Linked DNA regions of Homo sapiens: region 2 is reported to be linked to region 1. Evidence: microRNA targets listed by miRTarBase, many of them from high-throughput screens and not tested one by one. Region 1 holds a microRNA gene; the other region holds the end of a gene's coding sequence.
The links. Region 1 holds the annotated microRNA hsa-miR-4298 (CUGGGACAGGAGGAGGAGGCAG, at 1,964-1,985, opposite strand). A microRNA usually pairs through its seed, bases 2 to 8, with sites in the 3' UTR of a target mRNA and lowers its output. Matches are read on the target gene's strand: a 7mer-m8 pairs with bases 2 to 8, a 7mer-A1 pairs with bases 2 to 7 and ends in A, and an 8mer does both.

Region 2: the mRNA of CHAC1 is a reported target of hsa-miR-4298. Seed matches in the 3' UTR shown: 7mer-m8 at 2,862-2,868.

What each region holds. Positions count from the first base shown.
Region 1 is chr11:1,857,542-1,861,931 of GRCh38, forward strand. MIR4298 (microRNA 4298) reads right to left here and starts at 1,995; the gene lies at 1,923-1,995. The region is part of intron 1 of LSP1 (lymphocyte specific protein 1); the gene reads left to right.
Region 2 is chr15:40,954,956-40,959,345 of GRCh38, reverse strand. It overlaps CHAC1 (ChaC glutathione specific gamma-glutamylcyclotransferase 1), which reads right to left. Exons shown (of 3, transcript NM_024111.6): 3 at 2,834-3,973. The coding sequence ends at 3,572. Among named protein-coding and RNA genes, the nearest start is that of CHAC1, 3.7 kb to the right of the region's middle. RefSeq lists enhancers at 1,058-1,594, 3,097-3,647.

The DNA of each region.
Region 1 (4,390 bases):
TGCAGTCCCAGCCCCTGAGATCCCACTGCTGGGGCGGCGGGAGGGGGATGGGCTGCAAGGCCCCAGGGCTGGCCTTGCTTCGGCTGCTATAGGCCCTCGGAGTGCTTTCTGGATGAGTAAGCCGCACCCCTCTGAAGCCTCAGTTTCCCCATCTGCACACTCAGAATGTAGCCACTCAGACCAAGCGTTCACTCCATGCCAGTCTTTGCCAAGCTATTTATTTATTTATTTGAGACAGAGTCTCGCTCTGTTGCCCAGACTGTAGTGCAGTGACACAATCTCGGCTCACTGGAACCTCCGCCCTCCAGGTTCAAGAGATTCTCCCACCTCAGCCTCCTGAGTAGCTGGGATTACAGGCACCTGCCACTGCCCCCGGCTAATTTTTGTATTTTTAGTAGAGAAGAGGCTTTCACCATGTTGGCCAGGCTGGTCTTGAACTCCTGACCTCAGGTGATCCACCCGCCCCAGCCTCCCAAAGTCCTGGGATTACAAGCATGAACCACCGCGCCCTGCCTTTGCCAAGCTTTTTAAACCAAGGCTCTTGTTTCATCCCCCGGAGCTGTGAGGCAGGTCCCTGGAGCCTCCCATTTCACAGACGGAAACCGAGGCTCACAGGGGCCAAGTGCATTGTCCAAGGGCTGCTCCCTGCCTGGGGAGGGGCCTGAGTCCTTGCCCCTGTGGGGTTCGGGTGCTGAGGGCCCACAAGACCTGCGGGCACCAGGAGGGAGCTGGGCTGGGCTGCCCTTCCCGGGGTCTCTCTGACCCCACACCACACACCAGCCACTCTGGACTCAAAGGCTCCCAAGAGCACCAGAGCACTGCTCATGGCCCAAGCTCAGCAAGCACTTAAAGGGACCGTCCCGAAAAGCGGAACTGGGACCGGGCGCTGCAGGACCAGCAAGGTCCTCCACTTCCCTCCAGCCCAGCCCCGCCCAAATCCCAGCCCTCAGCATCTTTTTGGGGGCCACTAAAGACCTTCTGGGAGATGGCAGCCCAGGACCATAAGGCAATCGAAGAGGGCTTTCCACATGCGCTGAGGCAGACAGAACCAGGCCCTGGCTGTGGACGAGGCTGTATTGATACTTAGAAGAGAGGGAAGCGAGCGGGCTGGAGAGGCTCGGCCAGGGGGCAGCCCAGCAGGGCCCCTTCCCCAGGGTTAGACTCTCTACAGCCGGCCCAGCCCCCATCCCCTCCCCAACATCTAGGGACCTGAAAAGAGGTTGGAGGGGCTGCATGGGGGTGGGGTTGATAGGAGATTAGGGGATTGAGAAAGCCAGGCCTCCTAGCCGTGTCCCACCCAGCACGGCCCCACCAGTGCCAGACACAGGCAGACAAGGGAGGAGGGAGATGCTGAGCAGGGGTGGCAGGAGGAAAGCCCCTGGCCCTTTCTTGGGGCCAGGCAAGTCCTATCCTAACTCCATCTGCTAACTGCCTCCAAGCTGCTTGTGGGTTGTCGGGGAAGGGAGTTTGTGGCAGGGAGGGCCTCTGAGTCCCCTGTATCCCCCGGCAGGAGGAGGCAGGCACATGGGCCCCTGACCTCAGTGCTTGGAGCAGGGCCGCTCTGGTGGGGCATTTGTAGGTCACAGCATGAAGGGTTCCAGCATACTTCCTGGGTTCCCAGTTTCCCTGGGAGCAGTGGTATAGACGCAGGGGCCTCTACACACACCACACGCTCAGGGAGAGTGGCTGAGGTGTCCAGGATACTCTGTCCACTGGGGCAGGGGGTGGCTTCTAAGCCCAGTACCCTTCCCAGAGTCCCCAGTCTCCAGCTGCTCATGGGCTGCAGATGAGGATTCAAGGTTATGCAGGGGTCACTCTCCTGCTCCATCCCTGGCAGGTGGGACCTCACCTACTGCTTCTTTCTGCTCCAGAGAAGAGCACGTCCCCCTCATCTCAAAAGTGCCTGTGCTCCTCCTTCCTGAGTGGAACCTACACTTTTGACAGTTTGGTTTCTGAGGCAAGGCTGCCTCCTCCTCCTGTCCCAGGTACCTCCCCTCAGAAAAGCAATGGGACTTGGGATAGAAGGATCTAGCCAATTCGTTCCAGATGAATCTAGAAATAATCCTTTAGCCTTTCTCTTAGACCCAGTCCCAACCAAAATCTGAGCTTCATCACCACCACCCAGCACCCACCATTCACCACCCAGCCTCCAGCCCCCAGCCCCCAGCCCCCAGCCCCCAGCACCCATGACCCACCACCCTGCCCCCTACCCGTGGCTCTGGCCCATTCTCCTGCTGTCAGCAGTGCCTGCTTGAACAGAGGGCCACACTGAACAGATGCATGCTGCAAGCATTTGGAGGCTGCCTCCTCTTTAAATCACAGACATTTATCCACCAGGGATCACTCGGGAGCCAATGAGGCCACCACCCTGACCTCCCCTGTCCCCATGGGCTCTCTCAGTGCTCAAAGCACCTTTCACTGGGATGCTGCTCTGTGAACATACATTCGCAGGTATGTGTCGGGGATGATGAGAATGTGTCAATATGAAGACAGATCCCTGCCCCTGTAGCCCCTGCTTAGGCTCTATTGAGGTGTTCAGCCTCCTGGGCCATGGTGGTCTGCTTTATCCTTGGGCCATGAGCTTATGAACCATGTCTTAGTTGCATAAGAAAGGAAAAATAAAGATTAGAAAAGAATCAATTATGGAGAACAGTATGAATGAATGGAAAGATGAATGAAGAATGATAGGAAGTAGGAACAAATGGATGGATGGATGGATGGATAATTGAATGATGGATGGATGGATAATTGAATGATGGATGGATGGGTGGATGGATGGAGGGATGAGTGGATGGATAGGTGCATGGATCGATGGACAGGTGGGTGAATGGATGGGCAGATGGATGGGGTGGATGAATGAATGGGTTGGATGGACTCATGTATAAATAGAGTATAACTCATGCATAAATAGAAAGAATTATTTAGTAATTGATGAATGGATGAACAAATGAGCAGATGAACAAAAAATAGATGGATGGACAGAAGAACATCTGTATGTATATATGGATGTTTGGATGAAAGAACGAATGGATGGGTGGATAGATAAATGCAGATGTGATATTTAGAATATTTAACAAAGCATGTGGTACAAATATGAATCTACTGGAATGGGTGCTGATTATATATATTCCTATATTGAACTGTGTTGTACCTGTGCATATTGGCTGATCATCAGCCCAACAGCTAAATGAGCAAATGTACCAAAACAAAAGATGAGTGGATTTATGGATGAATGGATGATGGATGAATGGGTGTATAAATGGGTAAATGAATGTATTGATGGAAGGACACATGAGATGGAATTATGTATGGGTGGATGATTGGATGGCTGGAATATGGACATATAAATGATTGGAAAGATTAATAGAAGGATGTCAGGAGAAGTAGACATATGGATGGATATGGATAATAGATGAATAGATGGATACGTGGGTGGATATAACAAGAGATGAGTAGAAAGATAGATAGATAATGAATCAATAGACAATTGAATCCGTGCTGAGTAAACTATTAGAAAGACGGATGTGTGAGTAGACACTACTAAATCAGGAATTTTGCACTCTCTTCCAGGAACACTTCCTCCCATTTCTCTCATCTCTTTTCAAATAAGAAAAGAATTACTTCTTTCCATGAGGCTTTCATATATAAAGACCCAAGGAAAGAATTACTTATTTCCATGAGGCTATCATACGTAAAATATCAATCCCCTCCAGAACTCCATATGCCTTTACCCTGATTTATATTTTCTGTCATATTTTCCATCATCTGACCTTTATTTATTTATGTGTTTGTTCCCACACTTGAAACATGATCATCATAAGAGCAGGGACTTTGTTAATGCTGAATCCCCAGCACCTTCAAAGTGTCTGAATTCAGTACAGATTTATTGAATAAATATATGGAAGGATGGAGAGACAGATGGATAGACAGATGGATGAATGAATGGATGGATGGATAGATGGGTGGATGGATGGATGGGTGGATGGATAGATGCATGGATGAATGGATGGATAGATGGATAATGGATAGATAAATAGATGAATGGTTGGATGGATGGATGAATGGATGGGTAAATGGATGGATGGATAGGTGAATAGATGGATAAGTGAATGGATGGATGGATGGATAGATGGGTGGATGGGTGGATGGGTGGGTGGATGGATGGATGGATGGATGGATGGATGGATGGATGGATGGATTGGTGGATGAGTGGATGAGTGGATGGGTGGATGGATGGATGGGTGGATGGATAGATGGATGGATGAATAGATGGATGGGTGAATGGATGGATGGATGGATGGATTGATGAGTGGATGGATGGATGGGTGGATGGATAGATGGATGAATAGATGGATGGGTGAACGGATGGATGGATGGATGGATGGATGGA
Region 2 (4,390 bases), not on the chromosome of region 1:
CAAAGTGCTGGGATTACAGGCATGAGCCACCGCACTACTACAGTAAATGTTAATAACTATATCCGACATAAACAAAAGCTCTTGGGGTCCTCCACAATTTTTCATTTGTGAAGGGGTCCTGAGACCCCCGCAACTCCTGTGCCCTCAGTTATCCCTGTTTCTCTCTCTTCTTAGCAACCATGTTTCCTGAAAGCTGCTTCCCCTCCCACTGGCCCCTCAGCCCTGCCTTGTGGCTTTCCATACTGTTCCTGAAATTGCTCTCACTGAAGCCACAAGGGACCCCCCCTGGCATTTCATCCAGTGGACACTCTTCTGTCCTCGTTTCTCTTGACATCTTGGCCATCTTGGCAACATGACCATGTTGTGCACCTCCTGGAGACACCTTCCACCCTGGCTCTCCTCACCCTGCCCTCTCCTCGTTCTCCGCCTACCTCTCCAGCGCTTGTTCCCGACACCTCTTCTTGCTTTGCTCAGACCACCGCGGCTGGGGTCCTCAGGGCCTGGCCGGGCCCTGTTCTCCTCTCCTCCCCTACCAGGGCTTTAAGCCCAGTCTCCACATGTATGGTTCCCAAGTCTCTAACTCCAGCCCAGCTTTCTCTCCTGACTCCCACACCAACATATCCAGCTGCCCTGAACATCCCCGTAGAAGTCATTCCTCCCCTCACAGGCACCCCTAACTTAAACGCAAGGCTATCTACCCCCGACTCTTTCCAGATCTGCCACTGTCCCAGGAGCCCCAGCCCTACTGTCTCTACCCTCCTTTCACTCTGCTCATCAAACCAGCCACCAAATGCTGTCAACCTCACCCCTAAACAATTCTGCAATCCCTCCACTGTCCATTCCCACTGGCACACCTCAGCTTGGGCACCCTACAGCTCCCTCTGGCCTCTCTCCTCCAATCTGACTTCAGCCAGTGTTCTCTCTTAAGCACATCTCTGCCCTTCTCAGAATCCACCAGAGGCCCCCACTGACCCAGGAGGAATGCCACCCCGCAGCATGGCACAGCGCAATTCACCAGGCCGGCAGTCCTGCCACCTGTCTGGCTCGTGTCTCCTGTCCGGGCCACTCTGTTCCAGCTGGTCTGAGCTTGCCTCCCCTCAGGCACGTGTTGTTCCCTTACTCTCTGTTCCTCAGAGGCCCCTTCTCAGGTTCCCTCTCCAAGAAAGCCAAGAAGGCCTTCCCTGACTGCCCTGCTCAAGTCAGAAGCCCTTTCTGGGTGCTCAAGGCCCTCTTCTCCCATTCCACGCTGAATGGTCACCATCAGTTTCTAGACTCCAAGTTCCTTGAGGAGGAGGAGTTCTTTACCGCTGTATCCCCGTGCCTGGAATGGTGCATGGCACACAGTGGGAGCTTAAGGAAATACTTGCTGATCGAATGGCTTGATGGGTGAAAGCCCCCTACGTGCAGCTGGCAAGCAGCCCTCCCCACCATCAGCTCCCAGGATGGAGCAGGGCTGTGCTCTGGCTGTCTGGCAAGAGGCCCAGGAAACACAGGAGGCAGCTGCCCAGGGCTCCCTGCCACCTGCTGCCTCCTCCTTTTGTGTTGCCCTCACCAGGCACCCAGAAGAAGCTGGCTGGACTCCACACTCTTCCCATCAATGGCCAAGACACAAGGCCGCCAAGACATGAGCACACGGCCCAGGCATGGCACCCTCCCCAGCCACAACGGCTGCACAACCTGATCGGAGTTGACCCTGCTGGAGACACCCAGACCAATCCAGGACACCAGCCGCAAGAACAGCAGCAACACATACCACCCAGCCTGCCCCATACATCATCCCACGGCATCGTCCCCTCACAGTGAACTTGTACCCAGGGGGCTGAAGGCTTTTTCCGAGGTGACTGGGCAATGAGGAGGAGGCTGGGTTGGACTCTCAAGGCACTTTTTTTTTTTTTAATTTCCTTTGTATTTTTTATAGAGATGGGGTCTCACTGTGTTGTCCAGGCTGGTCTCGAATTCCTGGGCTCAAGTGATTCTCCCACCTTGGCCTCCCAAAGTACTGGGATTACAGGCATGAGCCACCACACCCAGCCCTTGGCCTCAAGCTCTTCTGCTGCTAGAGCCTGTCATTTTGGGTCTGCCCCATTCTGCAAGTTCAGGGATTGAGTAGCACTAAGAGGCCACTCCTGATGAGGAGCTCAGGCCCAGGCTGAGATCCTGGAGCTGTGATCTGTCCCCAAGGGCTAGACAAGAACATCTGGGGACAGGCAGGGGGTAAACTTGGGGCCCGCATTCCAGTGTGGGTAAACCAGGGCAGGTGATGGCAATGGGGAAGGCACAGGCAACACCACACTCCCGGAGGCAACAGTGAGCACTCAGACTCTGAAAGTAAAAGGGACACCAGGTCCTCCAGGCTACAGGTCCCTGCCATTAGCCTTGCCTTAGAAGTTGTCATCACCCTACCCTAACCCACGTGCTCCTTTAGCAGGACACCAGGGTTCTGGCCTAGCTGTTAGGAAGAGGCAGCCGCTGGCCCTGCAGCTGGAGGAAGAGCTGGTCTGAGCTCCAAGCCTGCCAGCCTCCTTGGGGCAGCTGGGCAGGATGAGACAGAGTCCAGGTTGGTGGCAAGGACACTGCTCACAGGGCTGCCAAGTAGAGCATGAGCTGAATTCTGCACAACTCAGGGGGTACTATTTGCATGCGTAAGGCATGAACTGTACCCATGAGAGTGATGTCACCTGCTAATTCTGCCTGCCCAGCTGCCCCTCCTGGGAAGAGAGGGAAGGAGAGGAAGAGGGAGCCCTTTCCCCTCTTAGGAGCCTTCCAGGGCATCACCACCTCACTTGCCCCAAACCCCCATCTGAGAAAGAACCACATTCCGGCACAGCACAGATAAAGAGATAGTTTTATGGGTAACAGTATGGGACAGACTGGGAAGGTTGCCAGGGCCTGTAGTGATGAGCTTCCCAGGAATAGACCAACACACAGGCAGGAGTGGCCCAGACAGACAAGTAGATAGACAGACAGACAGAGGGACAAGAAAACAACCAAGTGGGTAAGAGGCCCAGGCCAGGCTCAGCAGCTGTGTCCAGGCATCAGCTCCAGCTCTGCTCTGGGGAACTGGTGGAGGAGAAGGGCTGGCCGGGGCCTCAGTCCTTACAGGGCTCCTTCTCCTCATGCCCTACTATCCCTCATCCAGCCTGCTGGGATCCTTGGCAGGTGGAATTCCCAGGGCTATGGATGGCTGGGCTGAGTGAGCAGAGGATCGAGGCTCTTGGAGACTCCCTGGGGAGGTGGAGGCCTGGGTGGTGTGGGGTTAGCAGCAGCACTGGGGGGAATCTGGTCAAGTTCCAGGATGGGGCCACTGCTCAGCAGGGCCCCTGTGTCCAGGGCAGGCCCTCCACCTGCCCACCACACCAACATGGTGCAATAAATAAAGTTTCAAGTAGTAAGTCAGTGTCAAGCAGGAGAGCTGCAGGCTGGCAGACAGGCAGGGACTGAGAAAGAGAAGCCTCCAGCCACCCACCATATCTGCTCAGTGGGCTCAAGCGGTCGCAAGTCTGTCTTGTGCACTGGAGTGGGTGTCTGGCCCTGATGTCCACATGAGCACTCCCCGCAGGGGCTCAGCCCCTCACACCAGCGCCAGAGCCTGCTCGGTGGGGCAGAAGCAGGGCAACATGGTGCCCACAGCGTCCACGATGGCTGCCAGGTGCTCGTCCTGCGCCTGAGGCCCACAGAGCTGCATGAAGTCTGCCAGACGCAGCAAGTATTCAAGGTTGTGGCCGGAGAAGCCCCGGCAGGCCAGGATCTGCGTGGCAATGGCCTCTTCAGGCGCAGGGCCCAGGTAACCAGGGTTCTGTGGGGTGGCCACATAGGCCAATGCCTTCAGTGGTTGGTCAGGAGCATCTTGGGGATAGAAGGTGACCTCCTTGGTATCGTAGCCACCAAGCACTGCCTCTCGCACATTCAGGTACTTCAGGGCCTTGCTTACCTGCTCCCCTTGCACTTGGTATGCCACGCCCCAAGTGCAGCCCTGGGAAGAAATAGGGACACCCGGGGTCAGTCATGACAGCTCCTTGCTGCTCCCTCTCCTATCCTAACATGCCACCCCCACCCAGGACTGTGCTCTATAAGGGAGGCTGTGGTCGGCTGATGAGCCATCTGGTGGCAGTACCTCAAGCCCTTGTACTCTCTTTGTTAAGAACAGTTGAAAGGCCAGGCGTGGTGGCTCATGCTTGTAATCCCAACACTTTGAGAGGCCAAGGCAGGTGGATCACTTCAGGTCAGGTGTTCGAGACCGGCCTGGCCAAAATGGTGAAACCCCATCTCTACTAAAAATACAAAAATTAGCCAGGCATGGTGGCGTACGCCTGTAACCCAGCTACTCGGGAGGGTGAGGCAGTAGAATCGTTTGAACCCAGGAGGTGGAGGTTGCAGTGACTTCAGCCTG